7 linked regions of the Homo sapiens genome follow. The protein of the gene in region 5 interacts with the protein of the main gene of each other region in a pairwise test. Each region holds a gene or a part of one and is shown on either strand. Other genes may lie near its edges. The genes, in order: TCOF1, PPM1B, PKM, POU2F1, ARRB1, MAPK9 and EDNRA.

Region 1 (4,118 bases), on a different chromosome or scaffold from region 5:
TCTTGGGGCTGCAAGAAACAAACATCTGCTAAAGGAGCCAGATGAGCTTTTCTCATCTATGAATGGCAAACAGGTTTCATCTCACCTAACAATTCTATTGGTATTGGCTGCCTGGTGCTGGCATGAGGATCTGAGGCTGAGCCCAGACTTGCAGGAATGAGCTCTGTGATGCATCAGCCAGGTCCACCAGGAGCAAGAGAGAAGAGGATGGTAACATGAAGCTATGTGTCTGCATCCTTGATGGATTCCCAACTCCCCCGCAGCATGAGACGTGGAGGCCCCTGGAGGGAAAAGGACTGGCCCACATTCTTGCTGCCTACTGGGCACTGCACACTGCAATGGGCACCATTCACACAGGCCACCACACTGTAGCCCTGAAAGCTGTTCGGCAAGAAGGGGCAGTGGTCAGGCAGGCAGCCAGCCTCAGGTCCACAGAGAAAGTTGCCTGGAATTCAAATGGCTTCTTAGTGGAGAGGTGGCTGAACCATGCCACCTGGGCCCCGTTAGATATCGATATTCACTGATTCTCAGTGCTTATTTATTTACTGGGACAGAGTCCTGCTCTGTCGCCCAGGCTGGAGTGCAGTGGCACAATCTCGGCTCACTGCAAGCTCCGCCTCCTGGGTTCACACTATTCTCCTGCCTCAGCCTCCTGAGTAGCTGGGACTACAGACGTCCACCACCATGCCTGGCTAATTTTTTGTATTTTTAATAGAGACGGGGTTTCACCGTGTTAGCTAGGATGGTCTTGATCTCCTGACCTCGTGATCTGCCCACCTCGGCCTCCCAAAGTGCTGGGATTACAGGCATGAGCCACCGCACCCAGCTTCTCAGTGCTTTTATACCAGGGTATTGTCTCCTTAAATCTCAGATTTCTTTTTGTTAAGAAGAATGTTGGGCCGGGCGCGGTGGCCTCACGCCTGTAATCCCAGCACTTTGGGAGGCCGAGGCGGGTGGATCATGAGGTCAGGAGATCGAGACCATCCTGGCTAACAAGGTGAAACCCCGTCTCTACTAAAAATACAAAAAATTAGCCGGGCGCGGTGGCGGGCGCCTGTAGTCCCAGCTACTCGGGAGGCTGAGGCAGGAGAATGGCGTGAACCCGGGAAGCGGAGCTTGCAGTGAGCCGAGATTGCGCCACTGCAGTCCGCAGTCCGACCTGGGCGACAGAGCGAGACTCCGTCTCAAAAAAAAAAAAAAAAAAAAAAAAAAGAAGAATGTTGCTGAGATGAATGGCATGATCTAATTCTTTTCCTGGCACTTCACTCCATCTCTCTCTTTCTGTAATTATGGAAAATTTTTAAGTAGTAAATAGAAAGGAAGAACCAGGCAGCTCCAACCATTAACAACTTGTGACCAATCTTTTCATCTCATGTATTATCTCACTCACCCTTCCCCATCAAGCATTACTTTGAAGAAAATGCCATAGATCCTACCACGTTGCCCACAAATACTTCAGCATGTTTCTCTCTCAATGAGGATGCGTTTTTAAATTTTTTTTGAGACAGGGTCTTGCTCTGCTGCCCAGGCTGGAGTACAGTGGCACATTCATAGCTCACTGCAACCTCCAATGCCTGGACTCACATGATTCTCCTATCTCAGCCTCCTGAGTAGCTGGGACCACCAGTGCATGCCACCATGCCCAGCTAATTTTCTTATTTTTTGCAGAGACGGAGTCTCACTATGTTGCCCAGGATGCCAACGAGGACTCTTCTTCCTTTTTTTTTTTTTTTTGAGACAGTCTTGCTCTGTTGCCCAGGCTGGAGTGCAGGCACAGTCATGGCTCACTGTAGCCTTGACCTCCTGGGCTCAAGTAATCCTCCCACCTCAGGCCTCCTAGGCAGCTGAAACTACAAGCACACGCCACCATGCCTGGCTAAATTTTAAATTTTTTGTAGATACAGGGTTTTGCCATGTTGCCCAGGCGGGTCTCCAACTCCTGGGCTCAAGTGATCCTTCTACCTTGACCTCCCAAAGTGCTGGGATTACCGGTGGGTGTGAGCCACCATGCCCAACCCAGTGAAGACTTTTAAAAAAATAAAATTACATACCCGGAGGCTGAGGCAGGAGGATCACTTGAGGCCAGGAGTTCAAGGCCAGTCTAGGCAACATGGCAAGACCTCATATCAAAAAAAGCCCCAAACAAACAAACAAAAAAATGTAATTACACCTCCATTATCACAGCTTATAAAATTGATTAATACCAAATAGCCAATCAGTAAGAAATTTTACCATTTGTGTTTCAAATAGCATGCAGGTCTGTATATATGCATGTAAGAATACATGTTTGAATGAATATAGAGGCAAAGGAGGAAGTTTTAAAGGTTACCTATGAGGAGATGCACTTAGGAATGATAGGGAACAGGGTAGGACAACAAAAAACCTTTAAGTTTTCTTCTATATGCTCTTCTACAGTTCAAAGTGAACTCGTTTTGCATTTATAATGTAAAATTAAGCGATATATAATATATATCCAGGGCGCAGTGGCTCATGCCTGTAATCCCAGCCCTTTTGGAGGCCAAGGTGGGCGGATCACCTGAGACTAGTCTGGCTAACATTGTGAAACCCCGTCTCTATTAAAAAAAAAAAAAAAAAAAAGAAAGAAAAAGAAAACCCACAAAATTAGCTGACAGTAGTGGTGCATGCCTGTAGTCCCAGCTACTCGGGAGGCTGAGGCAGGAGAATCACTTGAACCCAGGAGGCGGGGGTTGCCCTGAGCTGACATCACGCCATTGTGCTCCAGCCTGGGTGACAAGAGTGAAACCCCGTCTCAAAAAAATAATAAAATATATACCTAGTATGATCTCAAACACTTTAAAAGCAGACTCAGGAAGCTGGGCATGGTGGTATGTGCATGGAATTCCACCTACTCAAGAGGCTAAGGCAGGAGGATCACTTGAGCTCAGGAGTTCAAGACCAGCCTGGACAACATGGCAAGACTTTGTCTTGAAAAATAAAAAATAAGTATTAAGAAATGTGTCTTCTATGTAAGCAAAAGAAGATAATACGATGCAAAGGAGACACAGCAATTCCTCTGTAGAGTTATGGCTGCTGTTGGGGAAAGTACAAGGAGCCCTGGGACCTTAGGAGAAGAAGGGGCTATAAAAGCTTTGACTGAGTTACTCCTGCAAACGGTGTAAAACCAGTGCCCAGTACAGCGTTCCAGTGCTAATGGGTACAATTCTAAATGAACATGAAGATCAGCAATTCCTAAAGCATCCCACAGGTCACACAGAAAATGTGTCCGCTAGCTGCTTTCTGAAATCCCTCCAGCAGTACTTCTGAACGTGTGTCTTCTTTCCAGCTAATAAGAATCACCTGGGAGCCTGTAATAGGGCAGCTCCTGGGCCCCATACACCAAATGAGACTGGAAGGGCCCATCTGGTTGTTTTGGTTCGGCCTTGCACCCCCAGAGCATGGAGATATAATGCCTGGCACGGAGGAAGGGCTCAAATACTGCCAAAGATATGTGGTGCCCTCCCAATCTCCTCCCCAGGGTCTTTTAGGTCTTCTAGTGATAAGAGAAGAAGCTGGAGGTAGACTCTACCCTAGAACAATCAATATTCCATAGCCTGTTCCCAAAGCTGCAAGGCTCTTACTGGCTTTGGCGGTTTCGGCTTCTGCTTCTTCCTCCTCTTCCGAGCTCTCCGAGGTGCTGATGGGGTCTGACACACGGGTTTTCTTAGCTTGCAGTGCCGCATCTTCCTCTGCCTTCCGCTTCCGACCAAGCTCTGAGGTTCTGCAGGACAAGGGTGACTGTCTATACCAACTGGGTGACAGAACAACTCCACAAGAATTGACTAGACAGACCTTCCCGCATCCTTCCAGCTCTTAAAGGCAATGTGCATAGAATCTAAACAGTGGTGAAAACACAGTATAGGCACAATTTTGTATTCTGCATTTTCACTCACTTCATAAAGTGCTTTTACAATTCTTGATTAGTCTTTAAAATAATCAGGAATGCTGGATAATGTTATATAACAGCTGCAGCAGCTACCAGTCTTTAAGTGATAGGAGCTGACCCATGCAGGCACCTCACAGAACCGCCCAGGCTCTTCCCCCTGCAGAACATGCTGTGTGTACTGTGCCTTCTTGGAAGACTCTGCCCAGGTCCTCGT
Region 2 (4,118 bases), on a different chromosome or scaffold from region 5:
ACTGGCATGAAATGGGGGCCTTTGCACACAGAAGGCACTCAGTGAACATAAGAATTGGCTGGAGGGTTACAGACTAAATACTATTAGACTGTTCTGAATTCTTTACTTCTCAGTGGGTTGGTAGCTCAGAGTAAATAAAAGCAGAAAGCCTCCCAAAGCTCAACAAAATCTCCTATATAATCTTAACATTTGGAGTGCTTTGAATTAATTATGTTCCCCCACCCCCACTTTTGTTTTTTTTGAGACGGAGTCTCACTTTTGCCCAGGCTGGAATGCAGTGGCGCGATTTCAGCTGGGTTGAACCTCCACCTCCTGGGTTCAAGCGATTCTCCTGTCTCAGCCTCCTGAGTAGCTAGGATTACAGGCACATGCCGCCACACCCAGCTAATTTTCTGTATTTTAGTAGAGATGGGGTTTCACCGTGCTGCCAGGCTGGTCTCGAACTCCTGAGCTCAGACAATCCGCCCACCTCGGCCTCCCAAAGTGCTAGGATTATAGGCGTGAGCCACCAGGCCCAGTCATGTCCTCTTTTTAAGGGACTAAGAAAGGCCACCTGTGTTCAACAGAAAATGCCATTTCCCCACCTCAGAGATAAATGCTTTAGTCAGAACAAGGAAAAGGAAAAACACTGCCCAAATAGGTTAAACACCCATGCTGACACTTCTAGATTCTCCTACTCATAAGAACATCCAGTAACCAGCCCTTTTCAATGCGAGGAGTGCTCTTGATACCTACAATCAAGAAAATAAAATGCGATTAGATTTAAAAATGAGTTGACATTACTCTCAGGCTTAAAAGCGCTTCGCAAGCCTTCAAACTCTTACAAATTACTCTACATATTATTGATCAGAACTGCTTCTTCTCTGGCAAACAACACTTATTCATTTGTTTTATTTTCTTGTATATTATACGTTTGAATCTACCTGATAACATAACTGCATTTTAAAAGTTTTCTATAAAAGACAAGGTTTTTTCCTATTTCTAGCACACAAATGTACTTTTCATTCACAACTGATTCTGAAGTGAAGGCCATTCTACGTAGACAATAATCACAGCAATCCTAGAGACAAGTCTTATCCTCCCTATATCACTACCAGTAATTGGTACCATCTCTAAGAGAAAGACAAGTTCCTTAATAGTCAATACATGGCTTCCAAAGTTTGTCTGTCTCCTCTAAGTATGAGATCGGATTTAACTGGATCTTCTTTTGTTCACAAGGATGCAAAACAATTTTCCAAGAAGTGTTATGTTTCTAAACTTTAAGATTTTTAATTTTCAAGAAATGAATCAATTTAAAGCTAAAAAATAGAATACTGATGATACTTAAACATTCTCCAAGAGAAAAGTTTGAATCCATTTTATATTTACAAGTTAATATTAAACTGTGTGATAAATCAAAAGTTTTAAATTAGTAAAGTGTGTTTTAAATGTTATAAACCATGTCAAATGTATAATATATGAACTAACAAATTAAAATACTACAATTGATTAAGCTACAAGGTTCTTGAGGTTAAACAAGTTATTACAAAGAGTATTATTATTTTTGTTTCGAGACAGGGTCTCACTCTTTCGCCCAATCTGGAGTGCAGTGGCGTGATCTTGGCTTACTACAACCTTCACCTCTCGGGTACAAGCAATTCTCCACCACAGCCTCCGGGGTAGCTGGGACTACAGGCATGTGCCACCACACCCGGCTAATTTTTGTATTTTTTGGTAAAGACAGGGTTTCATCATGTTGGCCAGGCTAGTCTCGAACTCCTGACCTCAAGTGATTCACCAACCTCGGGCTCCCAAAGTACTGGGATTACAGGCATGAGCCACTGTGCCCGGCCATGAAGAGTATTATTATAAAAGGTATATGTTATGCCAAGCAATAACAAGATATTGTAGATGTGATTAGTTATAGTAAAACAAAAAGAAAAAAATGTATTTAAGCACTCTTCTGTGTCATGGTTTACCATTAATTCAGAAGTAAAGTGTTTATGGTTGTTATTAAAGTTAAACCAAAGGGGAGAAATAAAGCACCCTGTAATTTGAAGGAAAACTACGAAGTATGAGATCTCGAGGGGCAAAAAAGAAATGAAAAAAGAAAACTAAAAAGAAAAAAAGTATATAAGTTATTGTACAGTATTTATGTTTCCTAGGATGTTATATGTTACTAAAAACTAAATCTCAAAATCTTTAAATACTCTGAGAAATAAATACACTATATAGATTACACTTTTGGAAAATTTTGTAACATCATCAAGAATTTAGTAAAGGGTTCTTTTCACCATAACGCTGATTCCAGTATCTGGTCTGTTAGTCTTTTTTGGCCGGCCAGTACACCTGGCTAAATTCTGTATTTTTAGTAGGGACTGGGTTTTACCACGTTGGCCAGGCCAGGCTGTTCTCAAGTGATCTGCCTGCCTTGGCTTCCCAAAGTGCTGGGATTATGGGCGTGAGCCACCACGCCTGGCCACGCTTGTTAGTCTTCTAGGTAGTCTTTAAGAAAAGGAATATGGATGGAAATGTTCAAAAGTGTCAATCATCTCAAATCAAATGGACACAAAGAGATTAAGTCACATCAGAATTTTTTAAAAAATAGAGGCGTGGTTTCACTCTGTCATCCAGGCTGGAGCAAACTGGTGCAATCACAGCTCGCTGCAGCTTTGACCTCCCTGGCTCAAGCGATCCTCCCACCTCAGCCTCCCAAGCAGCTAACTACAGGTGCACACACCACCAAGCCCAGCTAACTTTATTTTTTGTAGAGACAGGGTCTTGCTATGTTGCCCAGGCTGGTCTCAAACAATCCATCTGCCTCAGCCTCCCAAAATGTTGGGACAGGAGTGAGCCACTGTGCCCGGCCTAGAAACATTTTACTTGTAAAGATTCTAAAATGGCTTTAGCATACTTAAATTAATCCAAAAGATGAAAACCCATTTTTTTAACTCAATGTATTGATGTAAGTAAACACCAACAAAAACAAAGAAAAAATACACATTATGAAGCTCATGTACCTTTTTCTTCACCTGTTCTTGTTAGATCAGCCACTAGAAGCTGATGATCAGTTCTGTCATTCTGCAAATTTTATGACAGCCAACTACAAACTACAAAAATTAAATAGTTCCCAAAACTCTATTTCACCATCAATGTTTGAGTATAGCATAGTGAAATGTCAGTACACTTAACCATCAATTCTGCTAATATACGATACATTTTACAATAAAACTTTAAAGCTGCTAATATAATAGCAGTATTCCATTTCATTCCAATTCTGAAATTAATTCAGCAAGGGAAAAACAAAAAGAAATCAGGTACAGTGTGAAGAATAACTGAAAATTCAGGAATATCATACTCCTGAAAATTATCTTACCATAATCATGATTTCACATTTTATGCTATTACTTGAATAAATTTTGCTATTATAATTTTGGATTAAACAAACTTTTATTATTCTGATGCCACCAGTTATTTGTTTGCTAATTTTTACTAAAATCAGTGAATTGTGAAAGGCATATTTCACAGAAAATATAAAATACTGTATGTTGCATTTTTAAAAGCGAGAGTTAGAATTATACTACTTAACTACTTTCTATGCTAGGTAATGTCACAAAATACTTTAAAATAGTTACATATAAAAATATTCATGAAATACAGCTTTTTTTTTTTTTTTTTTTTTTTGAGACAGAGTCTTACTCTGGCACCCAGGCTAGAGTGCAGTGGCACAATCTCGGCTCACTGCAACCTCCACCTCGTGAGTCCAAGTGATTCTCCTGCCTCATCCTCCTGAGTAGCTGGGATTACAAGCACGCGCCACCGCACCTGGCTAATTTTTGTATTTTCAGTAGAGATGGTGTTTCACCATGTTGGCCAGGCTGGTCATGAACTCCTAACCTCAAGTGATCCACACGCCTCAGCCTCCCAAAGTGCTGAGATTACAGGCATGAGCCACCGCACCTGGCCTATATAGCCTCTTTTTAATGAATCACCACAATCACTAAGTGATACCGTGGCCAATTCTAAGCTTCCAAGACTGCCAAGACATAATCAGCATCATATTTTAATTCAAAAGATTCCATAAAAAATGTTTGTTATAGAAAAGATAACTTTCAACAAGAGCCACTTTTTCTGACCCT
Region 3 (4,118 bases), on a different chromosome or scaffold from region 5:
CATGGGAAGAGATCAGACAGCCTCCAGAGCTTTCCCATACAAACATGCGAGTGTGCACATGAGAATGTGGGGAAGGGTGGGCACATGCCTGAGTAGCACAGATGACAGGCTTCCCAGCTCGGTTGCACCGTCCAATCATCATCTTCTGAGCAAGGAAGACCTTCTCTGCAGGAATCTCAATGCCTAGATCACCACGAGCCACCATGATCCCATCACTGGCCTCCAGGATTTCATCAAACCTGATGGACAAAGTTGGGGGGAGAGAGGTTATATAGAACAGAGGCCACAAGTATGGCAGTAGACAAGAAGTTTCCCTGGGATTCCCTAACTTAGATGTCCTTGTACCAGGACAGACATCCATGATATCATCATGGGTGCACACAGATGGCAAGGCAGTCCAGCTACCTTAGGCCCCCAGAGTGGGCCAACAATTCTGCCTGCTGGGCTTCAACACCAATATGGATGCTTCATTGACGGAAGAAAGGGGAGAGGGCAAATCCAAATGGGCTCATTCCCAAGGTCTCCTCTCCAAATCCCATGCATGTTAGGGGTCTCTCTAGGGCCTCCATTTTCCAATCAGCACTTCAAGACAGGGAACCTGAGGCCTGATGACTGCTTCCACCACAAAGACCCATGGCCTCATCTAGTCAAGGACACTTGAGGACTGCCCTTTGAGGTGGCCCACTCCAACCTGCTGAAGGCAAGAGGGAATGTGGCTTTGCCTGGCCTAGGGCCAAGTTCAGCTAGCCTATGGCTTATCAGGATGGCAAAGGGGAGGACCCCAAATTGCCTGGTACAGAGGATATCTACACAAAGCTCAGACAGTAAGGCCACTACAGTGGGTGCACAGGGTTGCTCCCCCACCCTCCCCAAACACACTTCTAATCCACAAGAGTGTGTCTAGCATCTTAGTTGTGCTGAGTTGTATTCCTAGCAGGATGCCAAAAATGGTGGCCATGCCCACTGGGCTCTACTTTGTGAGCATTGGGGAGGGGGTAAGCTAAGTTGGGGCAATCTGAAACTGGAGAAGAACCACACATCTTCCTCTGAGAGTGGAATGGACCATACCAGAGTTAGCATGATCACTGAGCCAGCTGCATTCTAAGTGAAGACCAGGAGGCCATAAGCTTTAACATGGACACCAGGCCCTGAAATTCCACATGGCTCCCCAGGAAGGGCCAAAAAGAGCCCTTTCTTAAGTGTCTGCTGTCATCTTTCCCCCTGGTCCCCCCATTCCAGCAAACACTGGTAGTGTTTCTGATCAGGAACAGAACATCATGGCCCCTGGTCCTGTGAGCAGTGACCCTGTTCTCTCAAATGTTGGTCCCCAGGCCCAGGGAACAATGTCAAGCTGCCAGCATCTCAATTACCTGGGAAGCTTTTTTTTAAAAAAAACAAAAAAACAAAAACAAAAAAACATAATGCCTTCTACTCTCCTAAGATATTCTGATTCAGCAGGTTTGGAACTGGCTTGGGAGTCTACATTCTGATGGGCTAGGGGCTGGGAATCAGACATTCACAGGATGGACCATGCCCTTCGGAGAGCTGCGCTGGGACTGGAGCAGGGACAACGGGGACTTGCCTCCGAACCCCCTCATGATTCTCGATTTTGCTGATAATCTTGATGTTCTTTCCCTTCTCTCCCAGGACCTTCCTAACTTCATGGACATCAGATGCCTTGCGGATGAATGACGCAAACACCATATCAACATCCTGCTCGACCCCAAACTTCAGATCCTGGATGTCCTTCTCCGACACAGCAGGCAAGTCCACAGCAGCCCCAGGAAGGTTCACACCCTTCTTGCTGCCCAAGGAGCCACCATTTTCCACCTCCGTCACCAGGAAGTCGGCACCTGTATGAAAAAGGGTAAGTAGGGGAGGCAGAGCACGAGGGCACAGGTCAACAGGAAGCAGGCACCTTTCCCGCAAGGACAGTGAGCTGGGAAGTGGTGCATTATGGGTGCTGGAGCTGTTTTACCAGAGTTGAAAACCTACTACACTGTGTAATCCTGGGCAAGCCATTTAACCTCTCTGTACCTCACTTTCCTCACCCATAAATAAGGATAATTAAGACTGTTCTGACTTTGGGAGGCCAAGGCAGGCAGATCACCTGAGGTCAGGAGTTTGAGACCAGCCTGGCCAACATGGCAAAACGCCATCTCTACTAAAAATACAAAAAAATTAGCCGGGTGTGGTGGCGGGTGCCTGTAATCCCAGCTACTCAGGAGGCTGAGGTAGGAGAATAGCTAGAACTCTGGAGGCAGAGGTTGCAGTGAGCCAAGATCATGCCACTGCACTCCAGCCTGGGCAACAGAGCGAGACTCTGTCTTGAAAACAAAACAAAACACAGCGAAACAAATATATATATATATATATATATATATATATATATATATATATATGTATATATATATATATATGTATGTATGTTCCTGTGTTCTCCAGAACCAGAAGAATGTAACTATGCTGGATTAAAGCCTATCTTTGAGGATAAATGAGTTATAAAAGGGATTCCTGAGAACACACAGACTCAATCTCACTGCCAGGCAACCAACCTTCCCATCTTCCTTGTGTCAAGGAAGTTTAGAGACAAAAGACTGTTTTAGACAACTGGACTCCAGCTCCCATACGTACCTTTCTGCTTCACCTGGAGAGAAATAAGCCCATCATCCACGTAGATCTTGCTGCCCACTTCCACCACCTTGCAGATGTTCTTGTAGTCCAGCCACAGGATGTTCTCGTCACACTTTTCCATGTAGGCGTTATCCAGCGTGATTTTGAGAGTGGCTCCCTTCTTCAGCTCCACCTCTGCAGTGCCGCTCTAGGGACAAGAGAGTAAGCAAGAGTCCAAACTGGAGACACCAGTAGCAGCATCACCTCAGAAGGAATGGAAAAGCTCTTTCCTCCCGGGAACAATGCTCAAGTCACTGCTAAAAGTAATACAGTTTTTTGCTCTTATTCTCTAACTCTGTATACTTCACGGAAATAATCCAAGAAAAGAATATGTTTCAGTTATGCTACTTAATGATGGGGAAAAAGATACAAAGAGATGGTTCTCCAAGTTAGAAAGCCTAAAGTTTAGGTTTTTAGGGTAAAAAAAAAAGGTTCCTTTGTGGTACCATTTCCTAGCAAAGTAGATCAAATCAACATTGTTTACAGTGATGAATAAATCCTCATTTGTAGACCTCAACTCCTCTGCAGTCCTTCATAGTACTGGGAAGAAACATGGCAACCCAGCGCTTTGGAGGACATGTCTCTGGGGCATATTGCCTACTGAGCCTTCCCCTCGCTCTCCGCAGAATACTCACGCCCTTGATGAGCCCAGTTCGGATCTCAGGTCCTTTAGTGTCTAGAGCCACAGCAACGGGCCGGTAGAGGATGGGGTCAGAAGCAAAGCTTTCCGTGGCTGTGCGCACATTCTTGATGGTCTCCGCATGGTACTGGGGGAAAAGAAGGAAGATGACAAGCGTGCTCCCACACTAGAATCCAGCTCCAATTCCCCTGCCCAGGAGCCAAAGCTGATCACTCAGGAAAGGCCCGTGGATGTCTTAGAGCTCTATCTCCATCCTCAGCACGATCCATGCACTGAGAAATCCTCTACCTGCTTAATCCAACCTCCTCAGCCTCCACCCACTTCTACTACAGCACTAATTCACCCAAAGGGCAAATCTTTGAAATGTAGGTGGCAAATTTCAGAATATTGCCACCAAAACCCATTAAGGTATGGGTGCAAACATGTCTCATCATAAAAGCAGCTGTGTCCCCAGGGCTGTTCTTTTTTCCCTAAGACTCATCAAATACCCTCAGCATATAAAGCTCATAAACAGGGCAAAAAGCCTAGGACTTGTGTTTGGATAAGGCTGGTCTGGCAATCAATGTCACATTCTGATATATGTGGTAATGCTGAGAGCTTTTCCTCTATTGATTCCAACTACAACGCAAACTTGAAGTTATTGACTTAAGCTAACAGTGGCCCAAGCTAAATAACTCATTGCTAAGGTCACACAGACCTGATTTTCTCAATCGCTTTGTTTTTTTTTTTTTTGAGACAGAGTCTTGCTCTGTCGCCCAGGCTGGAGTGCAGTGGCACTATCTAGGCTCACTGCAAGCTCCACCTC
Region 4 (4,118 bases), on a different chromosome or scaffold from region 5:
AAAAGGCTGTATTTTTCATTAAGCAGACCACTAAAATAAGTGTACTAAAACAAGAAAACACCTAAGTCACTTTTCCATATAAAAATATATTCCCTTTAAGGTATCAGTGCAACTCCATTAAGGTAATCATATGTTTAAGCACAAATGAGTCGTTTAACACACAGCATATTGTTCATTTTCCAGCCATTCCTGTTTATATCTTCTATTGCAAAGAGAAAGTTCAACAGAGGGGGGGAAACCTGCCATAATAATTATTATTATTGATTTAATTTCATATACCATTTCTATATTCCAACATAAAAAGCATAAAGTTACAAAGAATTATGAAATAAATAATGTGATAAACTGCACTTGCTATGACTTTCAATATTGAAGACTTAGTAAAGCTACTACAAACACTTAGCTTTGTGGAATGTGAACATTGGCTGTTAAAAAAAAGTTAGTATAATGTATCCTCTCCGGATAAATGTCCAGGAGTTCCAGCAGTTTAAAAGAAATCTGGGCCAGGTGTGGTAGCTCATGCCTGTAGTCCCAGCACTTGGGGAGGCCACAGTAGGACTGCTTAAGCCCAGGAGTTTTAGACTAGCCTAGGCAACATAGCAAGACCCCATCTCTTAAAAAAAATTAAAAATAAGAGAAAATAAATGAATAAAAGATAATCTGATAAATCTAGAGGTTTGCTGATTCTTCTTTTGCTCAATTACTAGTCCTGTCAGCAAATGTAGGCAACACTGAAATCTTGAGTGCTTGCTTAATTGGAAATAAATAAATAAATAAATAAAACCCAAAAACAAAAGAGCTCTATTAGTCACTGAGTATACAAAGATACCAATGCTCAAAAAATTCACACCCCATAGTAAAAACACACAGAACCCCATAACCACATGCACTGTATGCAAGGAGCATCTTCAAATCAGAACTTCTGAAACTCAAGACAATTCTCATATTCCAAATTCTAAACATACTGTAAACGGATCAAGTAAGTCAGGCAATAGCTCTACTCAGGCTATTTTTGTTTCCATTGTTATTACTGCTGAAACAGTTTATAAGAGCTCATCACCTGTTTAGAACACAGAAATACTTCGGTACAAAACAAACCAATTTATTCCTAAGAAGAATTAAAATCTACAGTTATTCAATTCTCTTTACTTATGAAATGTCAATAATGCACAAAAATGTCCAGCGAAAGATGCATAAGGAAACTGCTATTCTCTGTGAACCTTAATTATTATCCCTTTCAACCACTCAAAAGGATATTTACATCCTTTAAGCAACACAGTAAGAAGTAAGCAAAATGGTGACTCAAAGTTACCCCAAAAAAAGGAAAAGGAAAAAATTCATGCAGAAAGGGTACAGAAATTCAAAGCAGATATGTCACTGAATCAAATCAACAACTTTCAACTCTAACGCCCAAGAAATAGTAAGTACATTTGCTCAGGCATTTAGCATTTAAGGAGGGATCAGAAACAAGAACATGGATAACCAAAAGGGGGCATGTTTTGTTTGTGACTTGGTCTGTTCCCTAAACGCAAATTACCTGAATAGTTCTAAATTCAAATGCAATCACTTTCATTAGGAAAAACACATTCCTGCTTAAAATCAGGCTTCATAGCAAGTCTTTACTAATCACAAAAACTGTGTAATTAACACAATTATATAAAGGCAAATTAATGAGTCACACAACATTATTTTTAATGGTGCTTGAAAGACTAATATGCAAAGATTACAACTATGGGGTTTCAAAATTAAAAAACAAAACAAAAATAACCGATAACAACAAGGCAATCACTACTACATAATATTACAGTCTTCCAAGTACAAAGGAAACATTCATGAAAATGAGTGACCAACTTAAAAAACACAAATAAATTCAAGATGAAGCAATACAGATTCAAGAAGCAGGTCAAATATTTCAATTTTTAATAGAAAATACTTAAAGATAACATTCAAATTTCCACTTCTGTTATTTCAGAACCACCTGCCTAAGATATTCAAGGGTCTATTAAACATCTTTGGTGGCTTGAGAAGAGCAACGTAACATTTTGAGCCCTGAACTTATTGCAAAATCCACTAACCAGATGAATGGCAGATTGACAATTACTTCAAACTAGGCAGCAATGAAACATATTTTATTTACACTGCTTTATACTACCTATTGATGTAGAGAATAGTAAATTTAAAATATGGCAGAACACTACACCTGAATTCATTTGAACCTGAATAATAGCTACGGTTTGTTTTTTCCTTGTCTACTGGGATTTTTGACAATGACAAAATGAAAGGAATTACAAACTAATTTGAGGGAAGAGGTTAAAAATTGCTTTTACGGTAATGGTTTGGAAGCAGAACAGTCCTTTAGAAATCAAAAACAGTTGGTCAGCTGTCACATGAATTTTCAAGACCTTGATTCAAAAGTATCATTGTAATTAATAGGTGGGAGAGTTAAGAAAGTGACAACGGGCTGGGCATGGTGGCTCACGCCTGTAATCCAGCACTTTGGAAAGCCGAGGCGGGTGGATCCCTTGAGGTCAGGAGTTCGAGACCAGCCTGGCCAACACGGTGAAACCCCGCCTCTACAAAAAATACAAAAATTAGCCGGGCGTCATGGCGCATGCCTGTAGTCCCAGCTACTAAGGAGGCTGAGGCAGGAGAATCACTGGAACCCACGAGGCAGAGGTTGCAGTGAGCCGAGATCGCACCAACGCACTCCAGCCTGGGAGACAGAGCAAGACTCTGTCTGGAAAAAAAAAAAAAAAAAAAAGAAGACAGTGACAATGGATTTCCTAGAAATACGCAGGAAACTACTTGACAGATGCAAAAGGAGACAGGCAGGTTATAAACTCATGTGGGTTCAAAAGTAACCTAAAATACTCTATCAAAATTGGATCACAAATTCAGGTTAGAAATAAAGCAATTTTATCACATTCTCAGGGAATTTTAATCATCACCTTAAAATAAACTAATAATTAAAAATATGAGAAATGTCTTACAAGAAAATCTATTAATATGTCAAAAATTCTAAGTGCAATCACTGTTGCAATGGAACAATTTTAAAATCACTAATCAAAACAAAATGAACAAACTTGTCCAGACTAAGATAAATCCAAAAAGAATTCTGAATTTTTTTTAAAAAATCTGTTTTAAAAGCACATGCTTTCCTGTGAGTATTCTACCTTATTTTCAACATTATCATTTCCACCTTAAAGAATACACAGCCCTCATTCTCAACTCTGCTTTATTCACTGAAATGGATTCTAAGGCAAATGGTCTCTCCATTAGCCTAAGCCATGCTCTGATTAAGAAACACAGTTTCTTATAAAAGTCTGGGGGATCACAACAAACATTTATATGGGTCACTTCTATGACTATCTATCTAAAACCCAAATACTCCATTTGAGAATTTTGAGGAAATGAATTTTTACAATAGCATTAAAAGTGAACCAAAATATAAGGCCAGTTAACAACATCCATCCTTTTCTGTATTACAAAAACTGTAACAGCGAAATTTTGCTTGTAAAATCCAATGTACATTTTATCATTTTGTATAAAATATCTACGGCCTCAGTAGTGATTAAATTGCAGCTATAAAGGAAATTGACCCGAAATAAATGGTTTCCCTATGAGAAGGCTTCACTGCTACACTTCACCTCAGGACAATAAATCAAATTAACTGCACCTTGTCCTCTGTCCAATGACATCATCAGTTTGACCACATCTTGGGAATCGGGTGCAAAAACATATGCTATTTAAGGCATGAAATTATATTGCTGCTTTTTGTCCATCTGACCTCATACTTCAGGTCTCTGAAGCAGTCATTCACCTGAAGGTTCTCTTAAAAGCTACAGATTTTTTTTTTTCCTGCTGCATTCAGGGCCTGCCTACTGTGAGTGAAAGAAGAAAAATGGTGAGAACTGGTTATCTGAAATTAGCTTGCGTTTAATCCATCAAACCTAGAATTTTGTTACAAATTAAACTGAAGACCAAAGTCCCACAAAATACATAGCTAGCCACTCACCAAAATGTCTTAACATAATTTCAAAGGTTTAACACATTAGTGTTAAACCCCACTCCTCTAATACTTCCCTCGACTACGCAGCGGTAAACATCCACCAGTGACA
Region 5 (4,118 bases):
AGTGTAATCAGGCTTTGCTCTCTGTAAAGATCCCTGTCACTCAGGTGGGATGGAAGAGCAAGGTGAGGTTTGTTAAGGAGAAATTGTGTCTCCCAGCTCACACCTGAACCTGGCTATCTGAAATGACCACTAAGATTCCTTCCAACCCAGTGCCCTGTGATTCTGGTCAGTCAAGCCAATGGGCTCCAGGCCCTCCAGGAAGGTGGGTGAACCAGGTGGAAGGGAGGAATTTACCTGGATGCAAGATCTCCCAACAGGCTGGGTGGGTCAGAGGAGGCAGGAGAAGTGGTCAGGAGAGAGTTCAGAGAGGAAGAAAACAAAAAGCACATTCATTCACCACTTCTGCTGTCCCCCGGATAGAGAAGACCCACGGGACACACTCCCACCCACCCCCCTGCACAGCCCTGACTGCTCTTTCAGGGATACACCGAAATGGCATTAGCCCTGCCCCGAGGGACTGGGATCCAGACCCAGCTCAGCAAACCCCTGAGCCCCAGGATCCTCATCTGTCAAGGCAGTGTAAAAATTAACCCCAGTGCTGCCTGTCCCAAGGGAGGCCGGACTATCTAAAGGCAGAGGGAAGGACTCCGGGGTTGCCAAGAATGTTTGAGGGACTGTGGGTCCTGAAAGGTCACCAGACACAGGATTTGGGATTTGTAATTTTGAGATGTCCTATTATATAAGGTCAGGATTACATACTGCCACCTGCCAAGAGGCATTCTTCTAATAATCAAGGAGACCCAATGTCTAATGGGATTTAGCTTTTCAATCTTTTCATAGAAATTTATGAATTAAGTTACAAAAAAGAAACACAGTAGTTTGTTTGTTTGTTTTTCTCCCTGAGCTTCCACCAAACTATGCTCCAGGGCAGGGCAGTCTGGTCCACCACTATGACCTGAGTTAGGAGAGGAGATTTCAGGCAATGTTTGGGGCACTGTCTGGGCCTCTGTTTCACCATCTGTAAAATGGGAAAGCTGACTAGCAAATCCCCAATCCAGCTCTGGGTTCTGAGCCCTTTTAGCTGTTTCCTCAGAAAATCAGCTTGGGCATGCATGGGGGTGGGTGCTATGCCCAAAGTGTGATAAGGAGATGGCACCCCTGGGGACCCCACAGCAAAGACTCTGAGGACGCCGTCCCCTGGGCATGGCCAATCCTCAGTGCGAGCCCAGACCTAGGATAGAGGAGGAGGAGAGAGAGAAAGAGATGGGTGGGGGTAAGAGAGGGGCTGAGGGCCAAGGAAGGAAGAGAGGGAAAGCGGGCGGGGGAGAAAGAGGAACAGAAGGGAGGAAAAGAAGGGACAGGAGGTTCCTCCTCCAAGGTGGATGCAGCTAAAAGGGCTGCAAACAGGCAGAATGGGGCAGGGGCCTGTGGGCACCTGGGACGCTCCCCTCTGCACTCCGGGGTCTTGGGCTTGGCTGGAGCACTCACCCGCCCCGAGACACCACCAGCTTCACTTTCACTTTGTAGGAAACAATGATCCCCAGGATCTCACGGTTGGCACCTTCCCTCAACCTGCAAAGTGACACAGGGGAGCCAGTTCAGGGGCCTTGCCAGGTGGGCGAGACACCTCAGGGGTGGGTATGCTGGGGGGCAGTGGCCGTCCATCCCCCATCTGGCTAGCCACTCAGCTACCATGTCCAATAGAGCCCAGTGGAGATGAGGAAGGCGAGCAGTGCCCTTAGGTAGCAGGGACCCAGAGCCCCGGTTCCAAGTCTGACTGTGAGACTCGCTCACTGTGTGGCCCTGCTGAGCCCCTCTCCCTGCCCAGGCCAGCGTCCCCGCCATGAGGGCCAGGCTCCTCCTCCCCTCAGATGGATTCTGCTTCTCTCAGCAACCCATGGGCAGAAAGGGCCACACGGGGAGTTCACAGAGGGCGAGGCAGCTGGGGTGGGGTGGGGTGGGGGCCATCAGAGAAGGACTTCTCCGCAGAGGTGGTGCTTCAGCTGGGTCTTGAAGATGGGTAGGGTGTGAGCCAGGGTGGAGACAGGGCAAAAAGCTTCAGGTAAGTGGGAGGCTGTGCAGGGGCTGCTGAAGAGAGCTGAGTCTGTGCTGGGAGTGGCGGCTGCTCTAGACGTAGGCCAAAGCCCCACTGAAGGACCACACTGGCAAGAGGGCAAGATGGCATCCCCATAGCCAGGGCTCTGCTGGAGCAGAGTAGCCTAGAGGCGTCCACGATGACTGTGCAGCAGGAGTGACCAGATGCCCTGGGACCCCTGACTTGGAGGGGCACCCCATGTTGGGTCTAACCCAGCTCACCACCCTGGTCTCTCCTCAGGGACACCCCATCTGACTGAAGGCATTACGTCAGAAGCTGCCACCTCTTGCAGGAAGCCTTCCCAGGTTGCCCTCCCCCAGGCATGGTAGCAGAGCCCAGCACTGCCTGAGTGAGCTGGCCTAGTGGTCCATCTTATTCTCTCAGTCACCCCTGGGTAGGGTTGGGAGTAAGGAGGCAGCTTCCCTGACAAGTCAAGCACCTGAGGACAGGCCCTGACAAGGCTATGGAGAGGGTAGCCTGAGCCTTGTCTTTGAACTGGGGGGACCAAGGAGGGTGTGGCCCCATCAGGCAAGATGCACTAGGAGCCCAGGGCTAGGAGGGCAGGTCCTCACAGGGTGCTAGAGGCCAAGTTCGTGTCTTCGTGCTTGAGCTTCCCGTCCAAGGCGAGGCCCCGCTTCTCTCGGTTATTGGCTAGGAAGGGGGTCAGTGTGTAGACCTTGCAGAACGTCGAGCTGGGTGCCACAGTGTCACTGGGAAGAAAGGAAGCAGCTGTGGAGATGGCCCTCCCCAGAGCCAACCCCAGCCCTGATCTCCAGCCCAGCAGAATATCTAGTCTGAGCCTGCTCCAAGTCTCCCTCTCCCAACCTCTGTCCCCCAGACACACGGACCACTTGGGCCAGCCCAGCTCGGGCAAGGAGACCACTGCCACTCAAAAGAGGCACATCTACATTCTACGCACAAACAGGACTGAATCTCGGATATTCTAAAAGATTATCCTAGTCAAGCAGCACAGTGCTAAAAAGCACATTTATTTAAAGAATTACAGCCAGCCGGGTGCAGTGGCTCACGCCTGTAATCCCAGCATTTTGGGAGGCCGAGGCGGGTAGATCACGAGGTCAGGAGTTGGAGACCATCCTGGCTAACAAGGTGAAACCCCGTCTCTACTAAAAATACAAAAAAATTAGCCGGGCATGGTGGTGGACGCCTGTAGTTCCAGCTACTCAGGAGGCTGAGCCAGGAGAATGGCATGAACCTGGGAGGTGGAGCTTACAGTGAGCCGAGATTGCTCCACTGCACTCCAGCCTGGGTGACAGAGCAAGACTCCATCTCAAAAAAAAAAAAAAAAAAAGTACAGCCACAGCAGGCACAGTTGCTCATGCCTGTAATCCCAGCAACTTGAGAGGCTGACAGGAGGATTGCTTGAGGCTAGGAGTTTGAGACCAGCCTGGGCAACATAGCAAGACCCCATCGCTACAAAAAATTTTAAACATTAGCCTGATATGGTGGTGCACACCTGTAGTCCTAGCTACTTGGGAGGCTGAGGCAGGAGGATCACTTGAGCCCAGGAGTTCGAGGCTGGCTGTAGTGAGCCATGATCATACCACTGCACTCCAGCCTGGGCAACAGAGTGAAACTCTGTCTCTAAACAAATTTAATTTAAATTTATTTTATTTTATTTTATTTTATTTTATTTTATTTTTTTGAGACAGAGTCTTGCTCTGTCGCCCAGGCTAGAGTACAGTAGTGCGATCCTGGCTCACTGGAACCTCCACCTCCCAGGTTGAAGCAGTTCTCCTACCTCAGCCTCCCAAGTAGCTGGGATCACAGGGGCGCGCCACCATGCCCGACTAATTTTTGTATTTTTAGTAGAGATGAGGTTTTGCCATGTTGGCCAGGATGGTCTCAAACTCCTGACCTCAAGTGATCTGCCTGCCTCAGCCTCCCCAAGTGCTGGGATTATAGGCGTGAGCACCAGCCCTGTCTCTAAACACATTTTAAAAAGAAAAAATTATAGCTACACATAAACCATAAATGAAGCTATTTGGGCACCCATATACCCACCATCTAGGCTCAACAATTAAAACTTTACTTGCTTGATCACATCCATCATATATAGGGTGTT
Region 6 (4,118 bases), on a different chromosome or scaffold from region 5:
CATCCTGGCTAACACGGTGAAACCCCATCTCTACTAAAAATACAAAAAATTAGCCGGGTGTGGTGGCGGGCACCTGTAGTCCCAGCTACTCCGGAGGCTGAGGCAGGAGAATGGCGTGAACCCGGGAGGCGGAGCTTGCAGTGAGCCGAGATAGTGCCACTGCACTCCAGCCTGGGAGACAGAGTGAGACTCCGTCTTAAACACACACACACACACACACACACACACACACACACAGCTGGTACTCATCTCTCTGGAATGCTTCTAGTCCTTTTAAGCAGAGAAAAGAAAGTGAGCCACTGAGTGTCCTTCCACTCCTGTGGTATTAAGTACTAAACAGCCTGAAGTGCTTCAAACACAGACGTCAGATGAACTTGGCTCATCCCAGGCACAAAGCCACAAGCACCATGAATGACGTTAAGTAACATGACTAAGGCTGACTGGTGAATTCTCCTGGCCACGCCTCATGAGAAAACAATTACACCAATACTCTGAATTGGACCTGCATATTGGTGAAGTCAAAACTTACTGCCATTAGTTTTGAAAACACAGATTTAGGAATTTGCAGAATATTTTCAATAAGAGAACAAACAGCAATGTTTCTGCCTCTCAGTGTGAAACCTCTTGCTAATATTGATCAAAAGCATGACACTTTATCATCTATCTGTGTTCATGTTAAATCTGTCATCAGAGATGGTGATGGAGAAATATCTAATTGCCATGTAAAAACACACAAAAATTGGACATGCTATACATTTATCTTTTAAAATGTAGTCTGTATTATTTTCACCAACCAAAACACACATAATATATTTTATTATAAAACATTAGCAATGTTACTTTTGAGATATGCAATCTGAAAGGTCACACTTGTATTTATTACCAGGAGGAAATACCAGAGGAGTCACATTAGAAATCAACCAGACAGACTCGTACGTGGTTATCGCTACTTACACAGCATTAAATGCGGGTTGAAGCAGCACCCGCTCCGTGTTTCAGACACGGACTTGGGGTGGGCAAGGGGCCCTGTAAGAGGGCTTCCTCCTCTCAGTACTGGGGCTCTGCGTCTCACCTGCTCCCATCTCCAGGCCCACGGCTGACACGGTATGCACAGCCAGGGTTTCCAGACTGCTCTCCTGCTCTCACAGAACTCTGTCTGCTCTCTGGACTCTGCCCTTGAAACTGAGACCTGGACATGGGGGAGACAGTCGTTTCCTTCTTGGCTGGAAACTAAGTCAACAAATGAAACAAACCTAGTCTAAATTCCAGGATAATAGTAAATTACCTGGTTTATAAAAATACATGTCCAAAATAGTTACTTCCTGGGTTGTGTACAATATAAATTACAAAAATAAAATAGAAAAGATGAAACAGTTGAGCACATTTTTCAGTTCTTTAACCAACATCAGCATTTATCCATAGAGATCAGTTTGAAACCATTTGCGTGGCACCAAGACCCTGGCAAATCTAGGCTCAGGAGAGAGAACCCTGAAGCTGGGGTGAGGTATTTCTGTGGAGCCCTGTGGCCTGTCCTAGGCACGCTCGCCTCTACCTGGTGGAAGATGGCCTTTCCAGGAAACCCTCCACACCGTCACGGGCTCCATCTGTGGCAAGTGGCTCGCTGAATGCACAGAGGAGCGAGTGAGCAGAAGGGCGTCTGCGGGTGCCTCGTCCCCCGTCCACGTCTCCCGGGGAGGGAGCATCACACAGTGCAGGGCAGCTCGCGCATTTTCAACCTCTCCCTTTTGTTTTTCCTTTTAAAGATAGATTTAGTGAAGTCTTTTAAAAGAAAGTGTATTACAGAGAAGGCCATTTTAAGATGTTTAGATAGATAGCCATAAAATAGGTGTTTCCGCCTCAATCCAAGTTATTATTACCATTTTGTACTTGAAAGTGTCCAAATGACACAATATAAAAGAACTATTTCTTATTTCAATATTAATTTTGCTAATCAAAGGTTCCAGTTTCCAGTGATATGACCAACCAATAAGATATAACTGGTGCAGAGAGAGCCATATATTTTACATAATATTTATAATAAACTTTCTTATCACAGTTCCTCCTCAGAACACACTCTACAGAATGTCGACTGAAAAGCTTCCAAAATAATTGAACACAAGATATGAATCAGCAACAGAATAAGCTCAAGGGAAGAGACATGGGCACAGGCAGGCAAAACGTGATCACCACAGCTCCGTTCCTGCAGTGACACTTAACATACTCAGCATCTTCATGAATTCTGAATAATTTACTGATCGTAAAGTCTAAAAGTATCAATTTCAGGTGAGCAGTTTTAAATCAGAAAATAGTCAATAGTTAATCATGACTCTTCAGGGTATTTCCTTCACGTCCTCTGAAGAGTTTCCCAGAACATTCTTGTGAAAAGGAATGCCTCCCAACAATGGAGAGCAACAATAGCAACAGGCATCTGAATCAGCCTGGCCTCTGAAAACAGACCAAAGAGGAGTTTATCTGCTTTCTTCCAGTGAAGAAAGAAAATCAAGAACGTGGTATTGGCCGAGGGAAAGTGAATGAGGGAAGGTAAATAAAGGACCCAGGCCAGTCTGTGGCAAAGGAAGCACTTAGGAAATGACTGCAGTGATCTCTAGTGAGCATTTTGTAAAATTCCACTCCAACGTTAGGCCATGGATGCAGGAACCTATCTGCCATCATATTTAATTAAGATGGAGTGTTACGCACCTAATAAAGAAGGTGAAGTTCTAGGTAGCATTTTAAATTCATAAGAAGTCTAGAAGACCAAGAAGAAAAGAGATAAGGTAGCTAGGATTTCAAGCAGCACTAAGCAAAACTTAAAATTGTATCGTGCAGTAAAGCTGAATGTACAATCATCCCAGACAAGACAGTTTAAAGAAAACAAGATGTCCACATAAGTGTCTTGGTTTTAGCCGTGATAATTCTCAGCCCCAAACATCACAAATCTAAGAAAAGCTATATATTTTTATTTATTAAATAGATTTAATTATATGTCTTCTGAAATACAAAAGATAGAATAAATCATAGCATAAAAGGGAATAAGATATGATAACATCATGATGGCCAATTAATACACATAAATCGACTTTTTCTGGACAGACACCAAATTACTTAAGAGGATTAAGAGATAACTTCAGAAGCAGCACTACCTGGAAGATTATTTGGCATTTAAATACTGATTTCCAAAGTGCTAGATGGGCAAGTCCAAGCAAGCATTTGTGGTCACATGCACATACATCTCAACAGTTACAGATGATGAGAAACTGTCACTAGTACAATTTGAAACAAATTCACCTACTCTAACTGCTCACCTGAAATGATCTTGAACAAAATCTCTAGAAGTGTGGCTTGCAATTTTTTTCTTCAGACATATTCTGCCTCATTTTATCATCTAAGCAGGCAATCCTATCAGGTCTGAGTAGGGCAAGGCATTGTGTTTCTTACATGCAGAACATGGAGTTTTTCTATTTGGTTCCATCAACTCCCAAGCATTTCAGGCCCACGGAGGTGAGAGTTCCTTCAATGCTGACAGGTTTGCTATTTCTAACCTATCATCGACAGCCTTCAAGGGGTCCCGTCGAGGCATCAAGACTGCTGTCTGTGTCTGAGGCCAGCGTCTGCTCAGTGGACATGGATGAAATGTCATTGATCGATGAAGACTGAGAAGGAGTGGCGTTGCTACTTACTGCTGCATCTGTGCTAAGAAAACCAAATATAATAAAATCTGAGGCACGACATTGCTGCAAATCCAGGCAGCGAGACTGCAGGCCATTTCTCGGCTCTGTCCTTTTGCAGTTTCCCAATCCTAACTATGAGTATAGACAAGAAGTCAGTCAGCTGGACTTTCTGAACTTTTCCTTGAGTCTTTCTTTGGGCCAAGAGTCCCATATTCCTATGTCTTTCCTTGCAAGATTCTTCTTTTTTTCTCAGTAGCTAAACATATATGTGGCCATGTATAATCATGTTAGCTACTTAAAAAATACCTGCTGCTTTCAAGCAGACATCAAAAGGACACAGCTATATTTATCTGAAAATGCAGTATCACAAAAGCTTAAGCCTGACTAGGATTCCAGTGTCACCAGACACTTGAATTGTAACAATTTATAACATAAACACTAAATCTA
Region 7 (4,691 bases), on a different chromosome or scaffold from region 5:
AGGTCATAATTTAATCTTAAAAAAATTGAGTCCTGGTTGGGTGTGGTGGCTCATGTCTATAATCTCAGCACTTTGGGAGGCCAAAGCAGGAGGATCACTTGAGCCCAGGAGTTTGAAACTAGCCTGGGCAACTTAGTGAGACCCTGTCTTTACAAAACATAAAAAAGATTAGACAGGCATGGTGGCGTGTGCCTGTAGTCTCAGCTACTTGGGAGGCTGAGATGGGAGAATCACTTGAGTCCAGGAGGTTAAGGCTGCAGGGAGCTATGATCGAGTCACTGCACTCCATCCTGAGCAGCAGAGTGAGACCCTGTCTCAAAAAAAAAAAAATTAAATAAATAAAAAGTAAAAAATAAAATTGAATCCTTTTTCTGAGTGTATTCAAGGTTGATGTTAACCACTTTTAGGAATTTTGACAATTATCTTGGGAAATCAGTAAAGCTTAGGTTTGGCCAATACGTGGATAAAATAAGATTTATTCAAGTTGCATAGAAAGTATAGGGTATATATAAAGTGCGAGTATTGGATACTTTTGCCTTCCCCAGAGATTTCCCCCTGAACTCTGAAATAATAATAGTATTTACATATAGTAACTTATTATATATGTATCTGTTATCTGCCTTGAGCTTTACGACTCTAGGTAGGCAGGAGCAATATCTCCATTTTACTTATAAGGAAACCAGAGTCTTGAAGAAGTATTTAGGTCAAGGTTTCAAAGCCAAGAAATGGCAGGACACATAATTTTGCTTATAGGACTTGACTCACTCTGATTAAATGGGAAAAATATCAATTTTTCAAGGCTAGAGGCAGGCCATGTATTTGTCAGCTCTGACTAGACTTAATTATAAACAGTTTGCAGTTTTTTCCTGCTTCTTATAATCTGGAGTGAGTATCTGGCCAAAAATTGATAGACCTATGAAATGACACCATTTCCATTCCAAAGGGAACACCAGGACTCCAAGAGAAAAGCTTCTTGTCATCCTCCTTTTTGGATCACAGATACAGGGGGGAGAAGAAATACTTTCATATCTTGTGCTGTTTCGTGACTAACGTCTTCCAGCTTCCCAAATGAAAGGGAACCTTCAATAACAGCTTTCTTAAAAATGAGAGAGAGAAGGCCTTTGCAGAAATGGAATGGCTCTCTGCCGGTTACAGTCGGCTGGGAACTGACCTGTGAACTGACCTGGCTACGGTGGGTACTGCTCTACTCATCAGAGGTCCTGTGGTGCTTTGAACGTTAGCATGCTGGTCTGCTTGGTTAGCTGATTATGCCAGGAGGTAAGGCCAACGCTGTGGGTTCTTAAGGCATGAGAGCCAGCTATCATTAAAACCCCCTTCCTTCCTCCTCCAACAATGACACCACTACAGAAATCATTTCTGATGACTTCTCTATCAGCTCTCCACACATGTTAAGCTGCAAAACTAAGGGATACTTGGCAAAGGCCTGTGGATGTCATATTATCATTGGCTGAAAAGTACAAAACCAAATGAAAGAAGCCCCTCAACTGCAGGTTCTTCCAAGGTGGGTCTGTAGCTCATTTCCAGGAATCTGAGTCAGGCTGTGCTTTGAATCATCACTCATAATCAGTCATAGCGCTAGTGAAGCATCTCAGGTTCAGACCTGAAGGACATGGTCTATAGATTCAGCATTCTTCCTGTTTGGAATCTGAGAGTTTGGGGAGTGCAAAAACTATTATTAAGAAAGAGGACTGAATCCTTACGCTTACACTTTAACCATTTAACATATGAGACTCTCAGGATCAAAGTTCACCTGTAATTGGTAATTTGGAAATTCAGACCTTATCAAAATGGCATGAGTTTAGAGCATTCAATTTACATGAAATGACTGCCAAGGTGTTTCTCAATTAGCTAACACATAGACAACTACAGGTGGAGGAAAAAACAAGTAAAAGTAGGAACTTTTTACAAGTTTTCTGAGGTTTTGCTCTCTGGTTAAGAAATGAGCAACTCTCCTTAGAGACAACGCCTGAGTTTAATATGCCTCCCACCCCCAACTCTATCAGGGGAAAGCCATTAGGATGATGTAAACAGAGGGTGATTATCTAGAAGCAGCCCTTGTTTTCTGCACGTGAGAAGCAACAAGTGTCCTTTAAAGGCGAGCACAGAACAAAACGCCCAGACCTCCACAGGCAGGTTTCCAAAACTAGCTACACAGGGGGTTTCCCCAAACACCTCAGTCCCTCACACCGAGTGCCCTTGGCTACCCTTGGCATACCCAGACCCAGATGTGGGGGAGGAAAAGCAAGCCAGTAAGAAAAGGCTGTGGAGCCAACTTCACAAGAAGGCGCTGGAGCAAGCCACAGAGCTTGGCGTTCCTCAAAGTTCTTGCATGCCTGGGGAAAAGGGGTCACCCAGGGAAAACTATTGGGCTTCCTCTTCCTAAAACTCCGAATCCTAAACCCTAACGTGGAGAGGTGAAGTTCCCCGAACTCTACACGTGTCCGCAGCGCACCCCTCACGGAAGGCGCCCGCCTCCCCGCGCGCCCTGGGGCAAGTGGGTGCCAGCCCCTGCTGCGACGGGTCGCCCAAGCTGCAGGGCGGTCGGGCCAGAACGTTCCCAGCTCTCGTCTTCTCCCGACCGAGGGGCCCAGGCAGCGTCTCCGCCATCCCCGCACCCGCCCCAGTCCCAGTCCCCGATAAGAAAGACTTGCACCGACCGTGGAGCTCGGCGTGCGCAGACAGCTGCCGGGTCCGCGCGGCGCCTGGGCCAGAGGAAGCCGGAGCCGGCGAGGGTGGGTGGCGCGGAGGGTGGCCGGTGTCCCGGGCTCCGGCGCGGCGGCGGCTTCGGCTGCACAGCTTCCCCGGCTTCAGAAAACCTCCTGGGCACTGCTTCTCCCGGGGAGGTCTCGCTGGGACCCCAATCCCCGGCGACGACCGGGTGGGATGGATGAAGCCTCTCCACCGCCTCTCCACAATCGTCAGACCAGCGGGATGACTGTACGCGCGCGCGAGGGCTCGCACGAAAAAGAAAACTCCGGAGGAACACGCCTCCAGTCTGTCCTCCCCGTCTCCTCCCAAAGCTCCAGACCTTCCACTCCACTCTGGGACCGCAAGAGCGTCCTAACCTTCCAGCTATCCTGGGACGCGGCCACTAAAAAGCACAAAGCTGCCGCCCCCTTCCAGGCCCTGAAGGGCAGGAGTCTTTTTTAACTATTTCCTTCCTGAAAGAAAAGGTGGGGGATGTGGAGGAGAGAGGGTAGAGTTTGACAGACAAGACTCAGAATTCCGAAAGGCCTTGCAGAGGAACCCATCCTCTTAGTGCAGGCAGATTTGATCTGTGACGGAACAACTGGACACAGAGCCAGGGCCCACGGGTGGTTTCTTCTCCGTCTTCCCTGCCGCCTTTGCTTGGCTTGCGTGCTCCCTCTTAAGCTTAGAGGCCGTTGAGGAGCCGAAGTGGACAGCAGTTTACTGGATCAGGTGGTTTGCTTCTATCTTGTCCCTTGTAGCCAGCATCCCACGGCTACAGACCTCCAGCCCAGGGCAAAGAAGGAGCCTCAGGAGAGACTATGGAAGGTTCCAGCGCGTGGCTCCGTGAAACCTCAAGAAATTCAAACAATGAAGAAGCCGACCTTACAGAAAGTGGGTCTCAACGTCTTTATCACGGCAGATACTTTATCCTAAATTGGGGGTGGGAGAGGAGATGAGGGACAAAGGCCACTGCCTGTGACATGTGAGTAAAAACTGGGGTCTCCTCAGGGAAGGCCTGCCTTGGAGTCCTTCAGTGCACTGCTAGAGTCAGCACATGGTAGAAGTGTGAGGTTGGAGCACTGGTCATGTTATATCCCATGCTGTTCCGGCTATCTGCTGCAGCTAAACAAATTACTATAAAACGTAGTGGCTTAAAATAACAACACTCATTTACTCTGCTTATCAGTCTGCAGTTTGGGCAGAGCCTGTCTGGGACAGCTCGTTTTTGCTCCATGTAGCAGGGGCTGGAGGATCCACTTCCAAGACAGTTCACTTGCTTGGTGTTGAGTGTTAGTTTTTCTCCACGTGCGTCTCTCCACAAAGACTTGTGGAGACTTGTGGTTTGGGCTTCCTCACAGCATGGTGGCGGGGATCCAAGAGTGAATGTCCCCAGAGACAGAAAGTGGAAGCTGCCAGTTTCTTAAGGGCTGGGCCCAGAAACTGGCACCGTGTCATTTCTGCTTGATTCTATTAGTCAAGCAGTCACAAATCCCAGATTGAAGGTGAGGGTATATAGAGCCCAACCCTTAGTGTGAGGAGTGTCAAAGAATTTAGGGACCATTTTGTAAAACCATCAAAGAGATCTACAGAAAACCACCATTGAAAGAGGCCTTAATAGTCATCTAGTAGGGTTAGACTAGATATTACCCTGTTCACTAATCTTACAGCTTCTCTAGGAGGGAGAATCAGCCAACCAGAATAACTAATAGCTTTTATAAGTGCCATTGTTTATATTAAAAAAAGGTGACCCTTTGGGCATGTGGCTTGGCAAGCTGACAATATTTTCGGGAAAGAAAAACTTACTGCTTCCTCCCAAAAGAGGCAGTTCACATCTTGGCCCGTGAAACATGTGCTGGATTTCAGCCCTTATTCACTCTGTGGCCAGACACACTTGGACAGTGCATCACCTGCATATCTGAATATGTCAATCTGTCCAGTCTTTGCTAGAACACATTCATCATGACCCACCTATTGAGACA

The links.
Region 1: the proteins of ARRB1 (region 5) and TCOF1 interact in binary tests that used the Homo sapiens proteins (3 or more experiments, as listed by UniProt).
Region 2: the proteins of ARRB1 (region 5) and PPM1B interact in binary tests that used the Homo sapiens proteins (3 or more experiments, as listed by UniProt).
Region 3: the proteins of ARRB1 (region 5) and PKM interact in binary tests that used the Homo sapiens proteins (3 or more experiments, as listed by UniProt).
Region 4: the proteins of ARRB1 (region 5) and POU2F1 interact in binary tests that used the Homo sapiens proteins (3 or more experiments, as listed by UniProt).
Region 6: the proteins of ARRB1 (region 5) and MAPK9 interact in binary tests that used the Homo sapiens proteins (3 or more experiments, as listed by UniProt).
Region 7: the proteins of ARRB1 (region 5) and EDNRA interact in binary tests that used the Homo sapiens proteins (3 or more experiments, as listed by UniProt).

The regions. Positions count from the first base shown.
Region 1 is NC_000005.10:150,363,734-150,367,851, reverse strand, and holds part of TCOF1 (treacle protein), read right to left. Parts: intron 3,740-4,118; coding exon 3,600-3,739; intron 9-3,599; coding exon 1-8.
Region 2 is NC_000002.12:44,171,375-44,175,492, reverse strand, and holds part of PPM1B (protein phosphatase 1B), read right to left. Parts: intron 1-4,118.
Region 3 is NC_000015.10:72,207,039-72,211,156, forward strand, and holds part of PKM (pyruvate kinase PKM), read right to left. Parts: intron 3,441-4,118; coding exon 3,309-3,440; intron 2,822-3,308; coding exon 2,635-2,821; intron 1,854-2,634; coding exon 1,583-1,853; intron 240-1,582; coding exon 89-239; intron 1-88. UniProt on the Homo sapiens protein: Catalyzes the final rate-limiting step of glycolysis by mediating the transfer of a phosphoryl group from phosphoenolpyruvate (PEP) to ADP, generating ATP.
Region 4 is NC_000001.11:167,223,469-167,227,586, reverse strand, and holds part of POU2F1 (POU domain, class 2, transcription factor 1), read right to left. Parts: intron 1-4,118. UniProt on the Homo sapiens protein: Transcription factor that binds to the octamer motif (5'-ATTTGCAT-3') and activates the promoters of the genes for some small nuclear RNAs (snRNA) and of genes such as those for histone H2B and immunoglobulins.
Region 5 is NC_000011.10:75,271,467-75,275,584, forward strand, and holds part of ARRB1 (beta-arrestin-1), read right to left. Parts: intron 2,746-4,118; coding exon 2,608-2,745; intron 1,513-2,607; coding exon 1,429-1,512; intron 259-1,428; coding exon 235-258; intron 1-234. UniProt on the Homo sapiens protein: Functions in regulating agonist-mediated G-protein coupled receptor (GPCR) signaling by mediating both receptor desensitization and resensitization processes.
Region 6 is NC_000005.10:180,232,839-180,236,956, forward strand, and holds the end of MAPK9 (mitogen-activated protein kinase 9), read right to left. Parts: intron 3,694-4,118; coding exon of another isoform or gene 3,689-3,693; coding exon 3,546-3,688; 3' UTR 305-3,545; downstream 1-304. UniProt on the Homo sapiens protein: Serine/threonine-protein kinase involved in various processes such as cell proliferation, differentiation, migration, transformation and programmed cell death.
Region 7 is NC_000004.12:147,479,364-147,484,054, reverse strand, and holds the start of EDNRA (endothelin-1 receptor isoform a precursor), read right to left. Parts: upstream 2,959-4,691; 5' UTR 2,679-2,958; intron 1-2,678. UniProt on the Homo sapiens protein: Receptor for endothelin-1. Mediates its action by association with G proteins that activate a phosphatidylinositol-calcium second messenger system. The rank order of binding affinities for ET-A is: ET1 > ET2 >> ET3.